2 separate regions of the Homo sapiens genome follow, and region 1 is linked to region 2. Evidence: fine-mapped QTL for protein levels in blood plasma. A gene starts in region 2. The other region holds a variant in brackets. All regions are shown on one strand. Distances are between the middles of the regions.

Region 1 (9,634 bases), 21 kb after region 2:
ATATGTTGCCAGGATCCTTGGTCTTTGACCTCCCAAAGTGCAGAGATTACAGGCATGCACCACTAATGCCGGGCCAAATACTTGTAATTTAAATTATCGCTGGGCTGGGCACGGTGGCTCACGCCTGTAACCCAGCACTTTGGGAGGCCGAGGGGGGAAGTTCACCTGAGGTCAGGAGTTCCAGACCAGCCTGGCCAACATGCTGAAACCCTGTCTCAACTAAAAATACAAAAATCAGCCGGACATTGTGGCAGACGCCTGTAATCCCAGCTAATCGGGAGGCTAAGACAGGAGAATCGCTTGAACCCGGGAGGCAGAGGTTGCAGTGAGCCGAGATCGCACCATTGTGCTCCAACCTGGGCAACAAGAGCGAAACTCCATCTCAAAAAATAATAATAAAATAAATTATAGTTGGAAAAAAGGGGTTTCCTAAAGACCCAAGGGAAATGGCCTCTTTGTTCCTGAAGCCACAGAGAGGATTTTTCTGCTCCCCACAACTAGTTTTCCTTGTGAAAATTCATAATTGCTACCAGCTTGTTCTCCTCTCTGTCACTATACATCTGTCCTTGAAGCCTTATTTGAACAAAGAGTTCTGGTATCACTCGGATGCCTAGAAACTGTTGCCGTTCTGTGAAACCGACCACCAGAGGAAACCCATGCTTCTCATTGGCTGCCTTACTAAGATGGTGACTTGTTGCCCTGGTGACAAGTTGCAATGACAGGTGGCTCTGCCAAATCAGAACACAGTGATACTTGCTTCCCCTCCCGGGTGAAGGATGGAAAATAAAAGTAAAAGCCTTGGCGGCTGTCAGGCTTCTTTACCAAAGAGCTGGAGAGCACTCCTTGGCCCCATTTATGCAAACACTTCCCATCTACAGATGATCCAGCTTCGGAGTGGGAGTCTAAGCAGCTGCCAGGACCACCGCTTGGCAGAGGACAGGCTGGGGGCTCTGGCATGACCTGCTGGGGCCAGGCTGTGACTTGGAGCAAGAGGTAGCAAGAACCTCGAGGCAGTGAACATCAAAAGAGAGATTTCCGGGGCTAAACACCCTAGGTTTTTCCTTCCTCCTGAACCCTAACCCTAACCCTCTCGGCTCACTGCAACCTCCACCTCCCGAGTGCAAGCAATTCTCATGCCTCAGCCTCCCGAGTAGCTGGGATCACAGGCGTGCGCCACCACGCCCGGCTAACTTTGTATTTTTATTAGAGACGGGGGTTTCTCCACGTTGGTCAGGCTGGTGTCAAACTCTCGAACTCAGGTGATCTGCCCGCCTTGGCCTCCAAAAGTGCTGGGATTACAGGCGTGCGCCACCGTGCCCAGCTTATTTTTGTATTTTTAGTAGAGGTGGGGTTTCACCCTGTTGGCCAGGCTGGTCTTGAACTCCTGAACTCAAGTGATCTGCCTGCCTCAGCCTGCCAAAATGCTGGGGTTACAGGCGCCAGGCCAAGTATCTTATTTTAAAAGGTTACAAAGAATATAGATGTGGATAAAATAAAAGTTTCTTTGCATTACCACTTTCCTGCAAGAAATGAGGGGGAGGGGCTTATGAAACAACTCACACCCCCCCAATTGAGGAACTGTAGATGAAAGGGAAGGTGCTGACAGGCCCGTCTGGCCACGGTTTCCTGGAATAAAACTGAGCCACACACCTCCACAAATCCCCAGCCTCCGGCAAGTACCCCAGAAGTACTCACACTCCACCACCTTCTGTGATCGCAACAGCCCTACGCAACATTACAGAGGGCAAAACCCACGCTGGGGAAGGCGGGGCTACTGTCAAAAGGTCACCAGGGCCAGGCACAGTGGCTCACGCCTATAATCCCAGCTCCTTGGGAGACCAAGGCAGGAGGATCCGTTGAGCTCAAGAGTTTGAGTTCAGCCTGGGCAACACAGGAAAACCCCCGTCTTTACAAAAACTTTTTAAAAATTAGCTGGGTGTGGTGGCATGCCCGTGTAATCCCAGCCACTACTTAGGAGGCCGAAGGGGGAGGATCTATTGCTTCAGCCCGGGAGTTTGTGGCTGCAGTGAGCTATGATTGCACCACTGCACTCCAGCCTAAGTGACAGACAGAGACTCTTAAAAAAAAAAAAAAAAGGGCAGGGCACGGTGGCTTATGTCTGTAATCCTAGCACTTTGGGAGGCCGAGGCGGGCAGATCATCTGGCGTCAGGAGTTCGAGGCCAACCTGGCCAATATGGTGAAACCCTGTCTCTACCAAAAGTACAAAACTTAGCTGGGTGTGATGGTGGGCACCTGTAATCCCAGCTACTCGGGAGGCTGAGGTGGGAGAATCGCTTGAATCTGGGAGGTGGAGTTTGCAGTGAGCCAAGATTGCGCCACTGCACTCCAGCCTGGGTGACAGAATGAGACTCTGTCTCAAAAAAAAAAAAAAAAAGTGGGGCACCTATATTCCCAGCACTTTGGGAAGCTGAGGCAGGAGGATGGCTTGAGGCCAAAAATTCAAAACCCGGCCTGGGCAACATAGCAAGACCCCATCTCTATGAAAAAAAAAAAAAAAAAGTCACCAGGCCAGCTAGCCTAGATTTCAGAGCCAGAATTTGTCTGATGCCATTGTCTTTACTTTTTCTTTTTCTTTTTTTTTTTTTTGAGACAGAGTCTCACTCTGTCACCCAAGCTGCAGGGCAGTGGGACAATCTCAGCTCACTGCAACCTCTGCCTCCCAGGCTCAAGCGATTCTCCTGCCTCAGCCTCCTGAGTAGCTGGGATTACAGACATCCACCACCATTTCCAGCTAATTTTTGTATTTTTAGTAGAGGTGAGGTTTCACCTTTTTGGTCAGGCTGGTCTCCAACTCCCAAGCTCAGGTGATCTGCCCACCTCAGCCTCCCAAAGTGCTGGGATTACAGTTGCGAGCCACCACGCCTGGACTGCTCTTCATTCTTTTTTCAGAACTTTCCCAGCTGCCAACAGAGACAGAAACTGAATCATCTCAGAAGTGAATGAAGGAGGCTGAGGGCGGGTGGACTGCTTGATTAGGAGTTCGAGATTTGCCTAGGCAACATGGAAAAAGCCTGTCTCTGCTAAAAATACAAAAATTAGCCGGGCGTGGTGGCACATGCCTGTAATGCCAGCTGCTTGGGAGGCTGAGGCAGGAGAATCACTTGAACCCGGGAGGCAGAGGCTGCAGCGAGCCGAGATCGCGCCACTGCACTCCAGCCTAGGTAACAGGGCGAGACTCCGCCTCAAAAAAAAAAGAAGGGAATGAAGGACACCCAAAATGGAGCCTCTGTCTGCCAGGGCTTTGCTATCCTGGCCTGCCTATCCCAGCCCTGGACACCTCATCTCTGATCCCACCAGAGCGGAACCTTCCCATTCGCAGGGCCATTTCCTTACCCAGAAACCTTTTCACAATGTTCTTGGCAGCAGCTGTTGGTCAACTGTGTTTTAAGGTTTTTGAGCAACTTTACAGAAAATAAAAGGGAAGCTACCCTCAATGTCTGGGTCTCCCCCTGGGTGGCCTCTCTTTGTCACCTTACTCATTTCCACGAGATTTCCTTGCTTCGTTGAGTTACATCACCTCCTTTTCCTGTCTGGGTCCAGGACGCCTCCTCTGCAGGTCTCCAGCACTGATTCCTTTGTCCCCGATTTCTCTGCTAGGGTCGCTGGCTTCACCATCCCACCACCACTGCTGCTGGCCCAGCCCGCAGCTTTAATTTCTCTGGACCCTCACGTTTTTGTTATTTGTGTTTTTTTTGGAGATGAGGTCTTGCTCTGTCACCCAGGCTGGAGTGCAGTGGTGCAATCACAGCTCACTGTAGCCTCCACCTCCCAGACTCAAGTGATCTTCCTGCCTCAGCCTCCCAAGTAGCTGGGTGTGTGCCACCAGGTGCAGCTACATTTTTTGTAGAGGCAGGGGTCTTGCTATATTGCCCAGGCTGGTCTCAAACTCCCAGCTTTAGATGATCCTTTCACCTCGGCCTCCCAGAGTGCTGGGATTACCAGCATGAGCCACTGCACCCGTCCTCTCATGTATTTTTTATTAATCGATTTATCTATTTACTTATTTTGAGACAGAGTCTTGCTGTACCACCCAGGCTGGAGTGCAGTGGCATGATCTCGGCCCACTGCAACCTCCACTCCCTGGGTTCAAGTGATTCTCCTGCCTCAGCCTCCCGAGTAGCTGGGATTACAGGTGCCCGCCACCATGCCTGGCTAATTTTTGTATTTTTAGTAGTGACGAGGTTTCACCGTGTTGGCCAGGCTGGTCTCGAATTCCTGACCTCAGGTGATCCACCCAACTCGGCCTCCCAAAGTGCTGGGATTACAGGCGTGAGCCACCGCACTCGGCCTCCCTCATGTATTTTTAAGCGGAACAGGTTCAAGATCACAAATGTTTTCCTCTCACTCTTTCAATGAGTTTCTATTCTAGAATCTCCTGCACGCCACAGGAAGGAGAACTCTCACCCTGTAATGCACATAAATACATGAGATCACCATTGTTCTCACCCAGTAATCAGAATCGTTAGTGATAATTAGTAATAAATTTATTTTTACTATATCTAATAAATTAGATAGTAATTACTATGGCAGCCAATCGTTCCTGGGTGCTCCCTAGATGCTTCCAAGGGAGCCACACGTGACCCTCAGGGCTGTGCCCATTCCAGGCTCTTCTGCTGAGCTCATGTAACCGCTTGCCTCAAGGCATTCCACAAATAATACATAAGTCAATGTATCACGTTGTCACTTTC[T/C]GTACAAACCAGCTAGTTCCGGAGGGAAGCAGAAAGCCTTTTTCAGAAGAACCACAGCTAATTCCAGTAGCAGGAATGATAAAGTTGGACATAATCCTCAAGAGAGTAATGAATCAAAAATGGATGGCGGGCCAGGCACGGTGGCTGATGCCTGTAATCCCAGCACTTTAGGAGGATGAGGCAGGTGAATCATTTGAGGTCAGGAGTTCAAGACCAGCTTGGCCACCATGGTGAGACCCCGTCTCTACTAAAAATACAAAAATTAGCCTGGCATGGTGGCTCATGCTTGTAGTCCCAGCTTCTTGGGAGGCTGAGGCAGGAGAATTGATTGAACCCTGGAGGTGGAGATTGCAGTGAGCCAAGATTGCATCACTGCACTCCAGCCTGGGCAACAAGAGCGAAACTCTATCTCAAAAACAAACAAACAAACAATAACAACAACAAAATTGATGGCTGCTAATGACTTTTTTTCTTTTCTTTCCTTTTTTATTTTTATTTTTTATGAGACAGGGTCTCACTCTATCGCCCAAACTGGAGTGCAGTGCCGAGATCATAACTCAGTGCAGCCTCAACCTCTTGGACTCAAGTGATCTTCCCACCTCAGCCTCCCATGTAGCTGGGACTACAAGCAATTGCTGCCACATCTGGCTAATTATTTTATTTTGTTGTATTTTATTTATTTATTTTTTGAGACAGAGTCTTACTCTGTCACCCAGGCTGGAGTGCAATGGCATGATCTCAGCTCACTGCAACCTCCGCCTCCTGGATTCAAGTTATTCTCCTACCTCAGCTTCCTGAGTAGCTGGGATAACAGGTGTGCACCACCACGCCTGGTTAATTTTTGGTTTTTTGGTAGAGACGGGGTTTCATCATGTTGGCCAGGCTGGTCTTGAACTCCTGACCTCAAGTGATCCGCCCATCTCAGCCTCCCAAAGTGCTGGGATTACAGGTATGAGCCACCGTGCCCGGTCTTTATTTTATTTTTAGTAGAGACAGGGTTTTGCTATGTTGCCCAGGCTGGTCTCAAACTCCTGGGCCTAAGTGATCCTCCTGCCTTGGCCTCCCAAAGTGCTGGGAACTACAGGCGTGAGCCACTGGGCCCAGCTCCTGTTAACATCTTTATGTGGAGAGTTACTGGGGACCAGGGACATTCCCCAAACCCACCCATCAATCGTAGTGACATGACGTTATGGACCCCCTGATGTGATGTACCAGGAAGTACCCGGCCCTACCAGCATGATATTATTCTGGCTGCAACTGACCCTTATTCCAATAGAGCATGTGGTTCTAAGCCATTTATAGGGTAAACATTGGGGCAGGGATGGGGAGAGAGGAAGCAACCTGCCAAATCCAGAATGAGGATCATTCCTCGGTACCAGAAGAGAACCAGAAAGAAAGCACCCTAAGTGGGGATACCACAAGGAAGTAAAGCAGGGGCCTCTCCCAGCTGGGGAAGGGAAGGAGGAAGGAGTACAATAGCTTGCAAGGCACAGCATTGCGGATGATGGGAATAGCAGGTGCAAAGGTTCTGGGGCAGGGACAGTGTGGTGTGTTTGAAGAACAGCAGCCAGGTTCACCATGAGATGGGAAATGGACTTGGGGGAAGGGATCTCAAAGGATAATTTTTTTTTTTTTTTTGAGACAGGGTTTCGCTCTTGTTGCCCAGGCTGGAGTGCAGTGGCATGATGGCTCACTGCAACCTCTGCCTTCCGGTTTCAAGCGATTCTCCTGCCTCAGCCTCCCGAGTAGCTGGGATTACAGGCGCCCACCACCACGCCCGGCTAATTTTTGTATTTTTAGTAGAGACAGGGTTTCACCATGTTGGCTAGACTGGTCTTGAACTCCTGACCTCGTGATCCGCCCGCCTCGGCCTCCCAAAGTGCTGGGATTACAGACGTGAGCCACCGCGCCCGGCCCCCCAACTTTTTTTTTGTTTTTAACACAACTTCTCGCTTTCTCACCCAGGCTGGAGGGCAGAGGCACAATCATAGCTCACTGCAGCCTCGAACTCCTAGGCTCCAGCGATCCTCACAGGAGGGTTTTGAGGATCTGCATAAAGCGTGCAGAGGGAGCTTGACTTCGTGCTCGTTAGGACCCGATATTGTCAGCTGCCGCCGCCCACAGGGACACATAAATATTTGTAGACTCAATATTTGCCTTTAGTGTGAAGACATTGCATCACCTGGGTATAAGTAAGGAGCAGAGGCAGAGGCGGTTTAAGCAACAGACTTTTGTCTCCGCTGAGAACCACGGAATAACCCCTGACCTACTTCCCCGTCGTGTCTAATTCGGGTCACCTCATCTCCAGTTACAGACGCGGAAGATCAAAGAAACCGGGAAATTGCGCCGCAGCGCCCCCTGGCGTTCGCAGCGCGTGCCTACACAAGCCACTCCCGGCGCAAAACTGCGGCTTCCCAGGAAATTGAGTTTAAATGTTTTTTTTTCTTTTTTCTTAATCTAGAAAAGATCATTTATTGTATCAAGTAACTACCCAGTTAGGCGTGAATACATTTTAAAATTTTTATTAAAACGAGTATTGGCCGGGCGCGGTGGCTCACTCCTGTAATCCCAGCACTTTGGGAGGCCAAGGCAGGTGGATCACGGCGTCAGGAGTTCGAGACCATCCCGGCCAACATGGTGAAACCCCGTCTCTACTAAAAATACAAAAATTAGCTGGGCGTGGTGGCACGCACCTGTAGTCCCAGCTACTCGGGAGGCTGAGACAGAAGAATCGGTTGAACCGGGGAGGCGGAGGTTGCAGTGAGCTGAGATCATGCCACTGCACTCCAGCCTGGGCGACGGAGCGAGACTCCATCTCCAAAAAATAAATAAATAAATAAATATAATATAATATAAAATAAAATAAAAAGAGTATTGTAGAGATTGGCTGGGCACAGTGGCTCACACCTCTAATTCCTGCATTTTGGGAGGCTGAGGTGGGAGGTCTTCAGCCCAGGAGTTAGAGACCAGCCTGGCCAACATGGCAAAACCCCATCTCTACTAAAAGTACAAAAATTCGCTGGGCATGGTGTCGCACGTCTGTGATCCCAGCTTTTTGGGAGGCTGAGGCAGGAGAATCGCTTGAACCCAGGAGGCAGAGGTTACAGTGAATCGAGATCGCACCACTGCACTCCAGCCTGGGCAACAGAGTGAGACCTTGTCTCAAAAATACATATATTTAGGAATTTGCTATGTTGCCCAGGCTGGCCTCAAACTCCTGGCCTCAAGCAATCCTCCCACCTCGCCCTCCCAAAGTGCTGGGATTGCAGGCGTGAGCCACTGTGCCCGACCTTGAGCTTAAGTTTTAAACATTAAAACCACCTCCCTCCCACTCCCTGCACCTCCCGTAAGTTAAAACGCGTCCCTGCTGAGGCCCTGCAAAGGCATATCCAGGGCAGGCGGACCCCAGGGGTCCACAGCCGACCCACTTTCTTCCCCACACCTCATCCCCTTCACAACTCTCCTCATCCATCTCCCTGCCCTGGTGGGAGATTCCGATAAATCCTAATTGTGGAACTGCTGAATCAGAGGGGGCTGCATTTTCCTTAGCCCCCACCTGCAAATTGTGTGTGCAGTTTTTCTGGGATGAGTGTCCTTAGATTTCCCTGAATTCTCAAAAGGATCTGTGACCTCAAAATCAGGAGAGAGGCCGGGCACGGTGGCTCACGCCTGTCATCCCAGTACTTTGGGAGGCCGAGGTGGGCAGATCGCTTGAGCCCAGGAGACCAGCCTGGGCAACATAGCCAGACCCAGTCTCTACAAAAAATTAAAAGATTAACTGGGCTTGGTGATGTGCACTCATGGTCCCAGCTACTCAGGAGGCTGAGGTGGGAGGATCGCTTGAGCACAGGCGGTAAGAGAGGCTCTACCTCTGAAGAGGATGCTTCCCCACCCTCTGCCCCCTCCCCAGGCACCCACTCCAGCAGTGAGAATTTCACTGCCAACATGAGACATGGGTCCCTACCTGTCCCAACTCAGACCCTGTCTATGATGTCCTATGGCCTCAGCAGGGACCAAAACCCTCACCATGGCCTCACCAGAACCTCCACGTGGTTCTCAGATTGGGTTGCAGGTCAGTACCCTCCCCTCCAGCTCCTCAGGGGCCTCCTGCATTCTCTGGCCTTGGCTTCTGCTCTGCCCTCCCCTCCCTTCCCTTCGCCCCCTTCATTTTCATTCTCTATGCAAATGCTGCCTCCTCTAGGAAGCCTTCCCTGATTGCCCCCAGTCTGGGTGGATTAGATGTGATATGGGCTCCCACAGCCCCTTTTGCCTCAGATTACTCATGTGGCTGGCTGTATATCTGTGCCCCAGAGAGGTTTCTTTTCCTTTTTCTTTTTTTTTTTTTTTTTTGAGATAGGGTGTCACCTTGCCACCCAGGCTGGAGTGCAGTGGCATGATCATAGCTCATTGCAGTCTCAACCTCCCGGGCTCAAGCAATCCTTCCACCTGAAAGTCCTGAGCAGCTGGGACTACAGGCGTGTGCCATCACGTGCCTGACTAATTTTTCTTATTTTTTGTAGAGATGGGGTCTTGCTATGTTGCCCAGGCTGGTCTTAAACTCCTAGCCTCAAGCGATCTCCCACCTCAGTCTCCTGAGTAAACTGGACCCCAGGTGCAAGACACCATGCCCATAAAAAAATTTTAAAAAAATTTAATTTTAAAATTTTTTTGTAGAGATAGGATCGTGTTATGCCGCCCAGGCTGGTCTCAAACTCCTGGGCCCAAGCGATCCTCCCACCTAGGCCTCCCAAAGCACTGGGATTACAGGTGTAAGCTACCTCGCCCGGCCTCTCCTGTTCTATTGGTGCTGTGAGATTCACACCTCACTTGAGTGCTATGGGCTGAACTGTGTCCTCTCCACAAATGTCTATGCTGAAGTCCTGCCCCGCAACTGCCTCAGAAAGTGACTATACTTGGAGATAGA
Region 2 (9,634 bases):
CAGGCCTAGTCACCTGCTCAGGGCGCACGTATGACAATGGGCCAATGTATACCCTTGCACATGGACACACCTGTTGGCTTTTCCAGGCACTCCTATGTCCTTGGGGATGGGTTCAATTGTCTCAAGTGCATCCATGTGGCCCGCGGTGGCTCCCGCCTGTAACCCCAGCATTTTCGGAGGCGGAGGTGGGAGAATCACTTGAGGCCAGGAGTTTGAGACCAGCCTGGACAACATAGCTAGACTCCCACTTCTTTAAAAAAAATTAGCCAGGTGTGGTGGTGTGAACCTGTAATCCCATCTACTCGGGAGGCGGAGGCAAGAGGATCGCCTGAGCCCAGGAGGTCGAGGCTGCAATGAGTCATGATCGTACCACTGCCCTCCAGCCTGGGTGATAGAGCGAGACCCTGTCTCAAAAAAACAAAAACAAACAACAACAACAACAAATCAAGTGCATGCATGAGCGGTGGACATAGTACCTTAGGGTCATGTACACTCATGGATACATGCTCAATGGCATAGATACACTCACGGGCACAATTACACACGTGGGTACACGCTTAGGGCTTGTATATATCCGTGGTCCCAGGTACACTCAGGGAGATGTTGTATGCTCAGGGGCACCCACTCTGGGACACAGGGAAGACACAGGGAATGAGTTACTCATTCACAGATGCACAGGTACTCACGCAGGGCACTCAGTCTCGCCCACCCTGGTGCCCCGGGGTCATTGTCACGTGCAGACTCTCCCTCTCCCCAGGTCCCAAAACCCCTCCCCTTGCCCCAGTAACAGGTCCCATAGCGACGCTGTTTTCCCTTGACTTTATTTATCTTCATAAGTCACAAAATGTGAGTGCAGAGATAAATGTCTGTGTGCATGTGCCCTGAGCACACAGGGTGGCATAACTCGGCACACTCATAATGACACAGCCGTTCACCCAGCCACAGATAGTGACAGGGCACACATGGCGACACCCACATGTACGGAGATAAATCTCCCCCACCATGACATGGGTAGACAGAAAACACGCCGCAGTATACTCTAGTATGTTTACACAAACAGGGAGACAGGCCCGTGCAATGCATGTCACCAACACCCACACTCAGAGTGACATCTGCTGGAGGTGCTCAGACACAGCCACCCACCGTGACATGCCGAGACTCACATATGTCACATGACACAGGCATGCATGCCACATTCACTGTGACTCTCAGTCCTATTCATTCATCACCTTTCTGGGAGATACACTGAAATGTCCACCCTTTGCAAAATGCACACACACGCGCACGCACACACGCACATACACGAACACACGCGCACACACGCACACACACGCACGCAGGTGTACACACACACGAGCAACTCCGAGACACTCATTCACCATGACTCGAGGTTTTTCTATACGTGGGACGAGGGGCAGGTTCACACTAGGCTGGGGGGGGGGGGTCATTTCCCGTCTTCGTTGGCAGGTGCAGCCCCATCTTCCAAGTTGTGGCTTTGGCTGCCACAATGTCCTCTCATTTATTGAGGTGAGGACTCTGGGGATGGGGAGAGACCCACAGTGAGGCAGATCCCGCCCCTGGGAGAGGAGCTGGGGCTAAATCTGAAGCCCCACCCACCCTCCTCCACCTCCTGTCGGGGCGCCAACTTACGTGGCATTTTCTGCAGCACCTCCAAGATTTTCTGTACCTTTGTGTCAATGTTTTTTATGCCTAGGGGGCGGGGAGGGTTGGGTGGGAACAGATAAGTCAAGCTGCGGTGGAGCCTCAAACAAAGCCCCCACCTTCCTTGGAAGCACCCCCCCTGCCCCACACCCACCCTGGGGTACAGCAGAGCCCATGGATTTGGGGTTCCCAGGAGCCTTTCAATACCCACAGAGCAACCCAGATGGTAACACCCATCGCCCCTCCACAACTTGAGCTTTGGGAGGGTAGGACCCCGGCTTTCTCCTCCCCTGAATCCCCTGCCCCCAGCTCAGCTCCGGGCATTGGTGACAAATAACCCCCATAGAAGGCGAGACTACACAGGCACCTGCTAATGTCGTCTCTAATCTATCAATCTTGCTCCTGACCATGGTGATGCTCTGCTGAACGGAATCCCAGCCTCTCTTCTGTCTCTCTTCGCATGCTTGTACGGAGTTTGAGACTGAGGGCATGAAACAGGGGTGTCTGTGCATCCATCCCTCTCCAGACCCCCACCATGACCCCACGGGTCTCCCTCAGACCCTCCGCTCACCATTCCAAAGCTCCCTTTTAAAGCCCAGCAGCTCCTTGGACATCTCAGCATCTGTTCAGGAGGGGCAGGAAAATCCTTGAAGCACCCAGGGAGAGAGAGAGAGAAGGACAAGGGAGAAAGTCTAGGCCCCCCAGCACCCTCCTCCCAAGAAGTACTCACTCTTCACCATGATGAAGGCTGACAGGATGATGCAGAGGACAAAGGCCAGGGCCAGGAGGATGTACAGGCTCAGGATGGCTCTGTACAACCAGCAGGGGACCTGGGTGGAGTCTGAGGGCGGCCTGCACTGGGCTGGGACTGGAGCAAAGAGGCAGCAAAGTGACCTTGAGGGGCCAGCACCACCACTCAAACCATCCTCACTGTCTCTAACACCATGGACACCTCGCTCCTCTCAAAACCATCAGCAGCTGTGGTCATGCAGCTTGTCATCATCGTCAACAACACTGCCACCACCAGCCACCCTCAGCGATCTAACACCGTCACCATCACAGACCCCCTCTCCAGCATTCCCCAACATTGTCATCATCAACAGACCTCATTAGCACGTCAACAGCTGTCACCTCTTCCTTCCCCATCGCTTCCTCCCTTCCACGCAGCCCCGGGGGCCCTGCAGTTGCCCGCCCACCTGCCCCTTCCCAAGGTGATGGGATGTGAGCAGGTGGGTGTCTGCTCACCTTGGCTCGTGGGTCGTGAATGACCACCCTTTGCATGGTCCTGATTTTTGAAGGCCAAGGTGATATTCTCATAGTCTGGGTCATGGGCACCTGGGAGGGGTTGGAGATCTGCTCAGAGCTCTGTGGTGTGGAGAGTGGATCCGGGATCTTGTTTTACCCAACCCTTTGCACTCAATAAATTGTAGGGGGTGAAAGATAAGGAGTGAGAAGCTAAAATCTGCTTTTTGGTTAAGTGGAGCGGGTGTGTGAGAGTTTGAGTGATCACACCACACACACATCCACACACACATCCACACATCTTGGAGGGGAAGGAGCCCCCGGCCCCCACCTTTGACCCCTTACCTCTCCCATCTGAACTCTCCTTCTTTTTTTATTTTTATTTTTTACAGACAGAGTCTCCCTATGTTGCCCAGGCCAGTCTCCACCTCCAGGGCTCACGCAATCCTCCCGCCTCAGCCTCCCAAAGTGCTAGGATTACAGACATGAGCAAAAGCCCCCGGCCCCCCAATCTCTCCTTCTTAACCCCTCCCTTCCACCTCGAGTTCCCTAACCTTGATTCTTGGCTGAGACCCCCTGTTTCTTGTCCCTGAAGGCTGGTGCTTGCATCTTGACTTCCTGGTGCTTGTAGATTTCCTCCACTTCCATGGTCCCCAGCCCGCAAATTTGTCCATACACGTCCCCGCCCACCGGAAGGTGTGGGCAGATGAGGAAATCTGGAGGTGGGGGGAAGAAAGAGGGGGAGCAGCCTCCTCTTTTCAGGGATCCACGACTCTCGCACCCTGGGGCACCCTCATTCCTGCCCCGATCAAGAGGCTCTTGGGAGCCAAGAGGTCTCAGGAAGGACCAAGAAGAAAAACCTCTAGACCGGGAGATGGAATTCGACACTCGGAAATGTTACAGGAAGCTGTGGTCTCTGTGTGTGTCTGTGTCTACCTGGATGGACCTCACCCTCCTACCTCCTCTCCATTTCAAAAGAGAAGCTGTGACACCTCAGTGTCCCAACTTTTCGCGTAAGAGCAACCAGGCTTGGAGACAGGACCCCTGGGTCCCCCCACACCTTCCTCCCTCCAGCCTCAGCTCCACCCCTCAGCTCCACCCCCAAGAAGTTCTTCTACTTCTACAAGTCCCCGTGGAGGAAAAGCACAGATGTGAGGCAACGGGAACTAACCACTGGAACGCCACACCCACATCTGGGACTGAGGACAGACCCACATCCTTCCCTCCCTCCCCAAATCCCCTGCTTTTATACAACCCTGGAGGAGGCTGGGTGCGGTGGCTCACGCCTGTAATCCCAGCACTCTGGGAGGCTGAGGTGGGTGGATCATCTGAGGTCAGGAGTTTGAAACCAGCCTGGCTAACATGGTGAAACCCCGTCTCTACTAAAAATACAAAAATTAGCTGGGCGTGGTGGCGAGCGCCTGTAATCCTAGCTACTCAGGAGGCTGAGGCAGGAGAATCGCTTAAACCTGGGAGGCGGAGGCTGCAGTGAGCGGAGATCACACCATTGCACTCCAGAATGGGTGACAAGAGGGAAACTCTGTCTCAAAAAAGAACCCTGGAGGAACAGTTTCCTCTGCACCTGGAAACTCCAGGTTTCTCATTCTCATCCATCCATCTGCTTATCTACCCAGATACTCTCTCTCACACATGTACACACACAGGTCTGCACACGGACACACATCACAAACTCATTTGCATACTATTTGCATTGTGACACTCAGAAAAATAGACACAAGCATGCGTTCACATGCCCGCACTCTGTCTAGAAGGTGTCTTAGTTCACTTTGTGTTTATCTGATCTTGAAAACTGGGGTTACAAAAGGCACAAAGTAGCTGGGTATGGTGGCTCGCTCTGTAGTCCCAGCTACCCAGGAGGCTGAGGTAGGAGGATCATTTGAGGCCAGGAGTTTGAGACCAGCGTGAGCAACATAGCAAGACCCTGTCTCTTTAAATGTTTTTTAATAATTTTTTTTTGAGACAGGGTTTCACTCTGTTGCCCAGGCCGGGGTGCAGCAGCGTGATCATGGCTCACTGCAGCTTTGACCTCCCTGGCTCAAGTAATCCTTCGTCCTCGGCTTCCCGAGTAGCTGAAATTACAGGTGGGCACGACTTCACCTGGCTAATTTTTCTCCTTTTTTGAGATGGAGTTTTGTGCTTGTCACCCAGGCTGGAGTGCAATGACGCTATCTCAGCTCACTGCAACCTCCGCATCCCAGGTTCAAGTCATTCTCCTGCCTCAGCCTCCCAAGTAGCTGGGATTACAGGCATGCACCACCACCCCCGGCTAATTTTGTATTTTTAGTAGAGACGGGGTTTCCCCATGTTGGTCAGGCTGGTCTCGAACTCCTGACTTCACGTGATCTACCCGCCTTGGCCTCCCAAAGTGCTGGGATTACAAGCATCAGCCACCGTGGCCCAGTCTAATTTTTCTTATTTTTTGTAGAGATGAGGGTCTCAATATGCCGTCCAGGCTGGTCTTGATCTCCTGGGTTCAACTGATCCTCCAGCCTTGGTCTCCCAAAGTGCTGGGATTACAGGCATACATTTTTATTTTTATTTTTTTCTGGCCAGGTGTGGTGGCTCACGCCTGTAATCACAGCACTTTGGGAGTCTGAGGCGGGCGGATCACCTGAGGTCAGGAGTTAGAGACACCAGCCTGACCAATATGATAAAACCCTGTCTCTACTAAAAATGCAAAAATTAACTGGGCGTGGTGGCAGGCGCCTGTAATCTCAGCCACTCGGGAGGCTGAGACAGGAGAATCACTTGAACCCGGGAGGTGGAGGTTGCAGTGAGCCGAGATCGCGCCATTGCACTCCAGCCTGGGCAACAAGAGCAAAACTCCGTCAAAAAAAAAAAAAAAAAAAGAAAAAAGAAGAAAGAAGAAAGAAGGAAGGAAGGAAGAAGAAAAGAAGAAAAAACAAGTATAAGACTGTCTTATGTGCAGAAAGTGATGATGTTTTGGTTAAAAATATGTGGTTAAATTTCAGACAACTTGAATGTTGAGAAATGAGCGTCGAGATCTGGTGAGGATAAAGTTCTGTTTCCTAAAATATTGCCAAATCCTGTGTCTCCAAGAAAGATCAATTTGATAATGACTTCATGCCAGCTGCTCCATTTGGTCTTAGAAAGAAGTCAGTTACTGAGCTATAGGACCGCCTTCTAATGGAGCAGACGGACCAATTGGATGTGGGCTCTGCCTTGATGGACAGGCACAGGGGGTGGAGCCACAGCGTTGCACATTTCCCGGGCTTGGGTGGGGCTGAGACGCGGCTCCAGGCTCTGGACTTCCTTTGAGAAAAAGGTCACGCTAAACCAGAGGCCCACAAGCAATCATGTCATGTGGGAAACATCTGCAAAGCTGCCTGACCAGCACCCGTCCCTTTCATAGGGTAACATTCTCAATTTTCTTTTAAGAAAGAAAATGTGTGCTAGATCCAGCAAACCATAAGCTAGGGATTGGTTTACAGTGGACAAATGATCCAGACCCAGCCAACCAGAGTCTAAGATTGGGCAGAGAGGCGGGCATTTGAGCAAGATCCAGCCAATGAAACGCTGGTCTGGGATTTTTATTGGTTTAACCACGGGGGAAAAAGCATTCTCTTTTTTTTCCAGCCCTCACTAGGGCTGCCACAATGGGAGGATGTAATGGGAGCTGTGACAGGGAAGAATTTACTTGAGAGCAAAGGCAGTGCTGAGAAAATCAGACCCGAGAGGAAGTCTGGGTCCTGGAGACATCATTTGAGACCCTGGTTCCAAGCCATACCTGAACCTGTTGTTCTAACCCTGGGCTTGTCAGTTACACAAACAAGAAACTTCCTTTTAGTTTTGCCCAAGCTAGTTTGAAGTGGGGTCTGTTGTACTTGCAAGCAGAAGAATCTTGCCTTGGCTGGTCTCTGTGGCCCACGCCTGTAATCCCAGCACTTTGGAAGGCCGAGGCAGGTGAATCACTTAAGGTCAGGAATTTGAGACCAGCCTGGCCAAAATGGCGAAATCCCCGTGTCTACTAAAAATACAAAAATTAGCCAGGAGTGGTGGTGGGCGCCTGCAATCCCAACTACTCAGGAGGCTGAAGCAGGAGAATCACTTGAACCTGGAGGTGGAGGTTGCAGTGAGCTGAGATCGTGCCACTGCACTCCAGCCTGGACAACAGAGTGAGACTCCATCTCAAAAAGGAAGAAGAAGAAGGAGGAGGAGGAGAAGGATGAGGAGGAGGAAGGAGGGAGGGAGGAGGGAGGAGGGAGGAGGATATCTTGCCTACCACAGGGGATCTAGGCATTAGCTATTGAGGAAATTGAGGCTCTAATAGGGGGTTTGCCTGTCCACATCACCTGGGCAGATATGACCTCCAAGTCTGCACTCTGGGGCAGGAGAATGTCTATGTTGGAATTGAGGAACCTGAAGAGAGCCCTCTTAGGTTTCAGATACAGGACTATTGGATGGGGGTGGAGACAAATAGTTCTGGGGACAATGGAGCATCCCCGCCCCCAACACACACACACAGCAGTAAGGGGCAGGGACACACACAAGGCACTAGACTCACCCTCTCTGGCCCTGGCCATGCTTCTAACTCAGTGGTCCTGCCCTACCCCCATGACCACTGTGGAGTCAGGAGAGAGGGTCTGGGAAGGGAATCCCTGGGCTGGAGTCTGGGTGGGGTCCCTGGCACCAGAAGTGGTTGTAATCTCTGCTCATGGCCACCAGCATCAGACAGGGGGCTGGGACCATCACAGGGGGTGGGTGGCAGTGGGAGGAGAGTCCAAAACATCCTGCAAACCAGAACCTCACTCTATCATCTGTTGTCCAGGTGTGACATTTGAGTCTGGGATCCCTTTCAAGACTAGGTGCTAGGAATTCTGAAGTCTGTGGTGGGAAATCAGGGACTGGATGGCAAGACTCCTGGGTCAGGCTTCCTGTAGAACTGGACCCCGAATCACCTGAATTTGTGCCCCAGGGAGCTGAGGCGGGGGATGCTGAGGCTTTTGCCCACTAGAACAGGGGTCCCCAGCCACCGGGCATTGGGAACGGGGCCTCACAGCAGGAGGTGAGTGGTGGGCGAGCGAGAGAAGCTTCATCTGTATTTACAGCCACTCCCCATCATTCGCATTACCACCTGAGCTCCACCTCCTGTCAGACCAGCAGCAGCATTAGATTCTCATAGGAGCAAGAATCCCATCGTGAACTGCGCATTTGAGGGATGTAGCTTTCTCACTTCTTATAAGAATCAAATGCCTGGTAATCTGTCGCTGTCTCCCATCACCCTCAGCTGGGACCATCTAGTTGCAGGAACACAAGCTCAGGGCTCCCACCGATTCCACATTATGGTGAGTTGTAGAATTATTTTATTCTATATTACAATGTCATAATAATAAAAATAAAGTGAATAATAAATGTAATGCGCTTGAATCACCCAGAAACCATCCCCGCTCCCCCCCTACCCCATACACACACCAACTGTCTTCCATGAAAACAGTCTCTGGTGCCAAAAAGGTTGGGGATCGCTGCACTAGGGTATCAGATACTTATCCAGGTGCAGTGGGGACTAGAGTCAGAAATGCAAGAGTCTGCCTGGAGCATGTGTGTGTTTGTGTCCTGCATCATCTCTGCCCACCATAGTCAAATCTGCGATTCTCCGTGCATTGGCCGGGGGGGTGGTGCCTTTCTGTGTCCAAGAGTGTCTAGGGGCACATGGGTGTGTCTGTGGATGTGGTGTCTCCATGTGGCCGTGGTAGGTGGGTTGTGTACTCTGTGTGTGCACGTGGCTGTGTATAGCTGTGTGTGCATGTGCAGTATGTGCACGTCGGTGCTGTATCTAAGTGCACATGTGGCTACTGATCAACAGACATTTACTGAACGTCTACTGTGTTCCATGCTCTATTCTAAACCCTGGGGGCGCTGGGTGCAGTGGCTCATGCCTGTAATCCCAGCACTTTGGAAGGCCGAGGTGGGTGGATCACCTGAGGTCAGGAGTTTGAGACTAGCCTGGCCAACATGGTGAAACCCGCTCTCTACTAAAAATACAAATTAGCTGGGCATGGTGGTGGGCACCTGTAATCTCAGCTACTTGAGAGGCTAAGGCAGGAATATCACTTGAACCCAGGAGGCAGAGGTTGCAGTGAGCCGAGATTGTGCCACTGCACTCCAGCCTGGGCGCCAGAGTAAGACCTTGTCTCGAAAATAAAAATTAAAAAATAGGCCAGGCGCGGTGGCTCATGCATGTAATCCCAGCACTTTGGGAGGCTGAGGCGGGTGAATCGCTTGAGGCCAGGAGCTCAAGACCAACCTAGCCAACATGGTGAAACTCCTTCTCTACTAAAAATACAAAAATTAGCCAGGTATGGTGGCGAGCGCCTGTAGTCCCAGCTACGTGGGAGGCTGAGGCAGGAGAATCGCTTGAACCCAGGAGGCAGAGGTTGCGGTGAGCCGAGATTGCACCACTGCACTCCAGCCTGGGCAACAGAGCGAGACCCTGTCTCAAAAAAAAAAAAAGAAAGAAAGAAAGAAAAGAGAAGAGGGGAGAGGAGGGGAGGGGAGGGGAGGGGAGGGGAGGGGAGGGGAAGGGAAGGGAAGAAACGAAACCCTGGGGGGGATCTAGGAGCAGACAAGTCCCCTGCTCTGTGTTTTCATAATCTAGTATCCAGGAAGGGGTAAGCACCCTGCGTGTATCTGGTTGTAACTAACTACTCACAACTGCACTTGCCTGTGTGAAAACGTGAGCTTGTGATGA

Which allele goes with the higher level. Alleles are on the strand shown, and positions count from the first base shown. The strength of an association depends on the size of the effect and on how common the allele is.
In carriers of allele T in region 1, the plasma level of the protein whose gene starts at base 3,544 in region 2 tends to be lower than with C alone (moderate association).

What was found. PIP is the chance, under the fine-mapping model, that this variant and not a neighbour inherited with it causes the effect. The UK Biobank Pharma Proteomics Project read protein levels with antibody pairs (Olink). The fine-mapping took linkage between variants from a reference panel, not from the people measured, so its PIPs are less certain.
Region 1: its variant is fine-mapped to the plasma level of the MCEMP1 protein (UK Biobank, PIP above 0.99).

What each region holds. Positions count from the first base shown.
Region 1 is chr19:7,649,630-7,659,263 of GRCh38, reverse strand. No RefSeq gene overlaps it. Among named protein-coding and RNA genes, the nearest start is that of RETN, 15 kb to the left of the region's middle. RefSeq lists an enhancer at 993-1,112. The variant T/C (reference allele first, on the strand shown) is at 4,711.
Region 2 is chr19:7,671,000-7,680,633 of GRCh38, reverse strand. MCEMP1 (mast cell expressed membrane protein 1) reads right to left here and starts at 3,544. Exons shown (of 7, transcript NM_174918.3): 1 at 3,459-3,544; 2 at 2,908-2,997; 3 at 2,393-2,530; 4 at 2,234-2,284; 5 at 2,030-2,143; 6 at 1,651-1,710; 7 at 805-1,536. The coding sequence starts at 3,513. The coding sequence ends at 1,520. RefSeq lists a silencer at 1-96 and an enhancer at 2,508-2,577.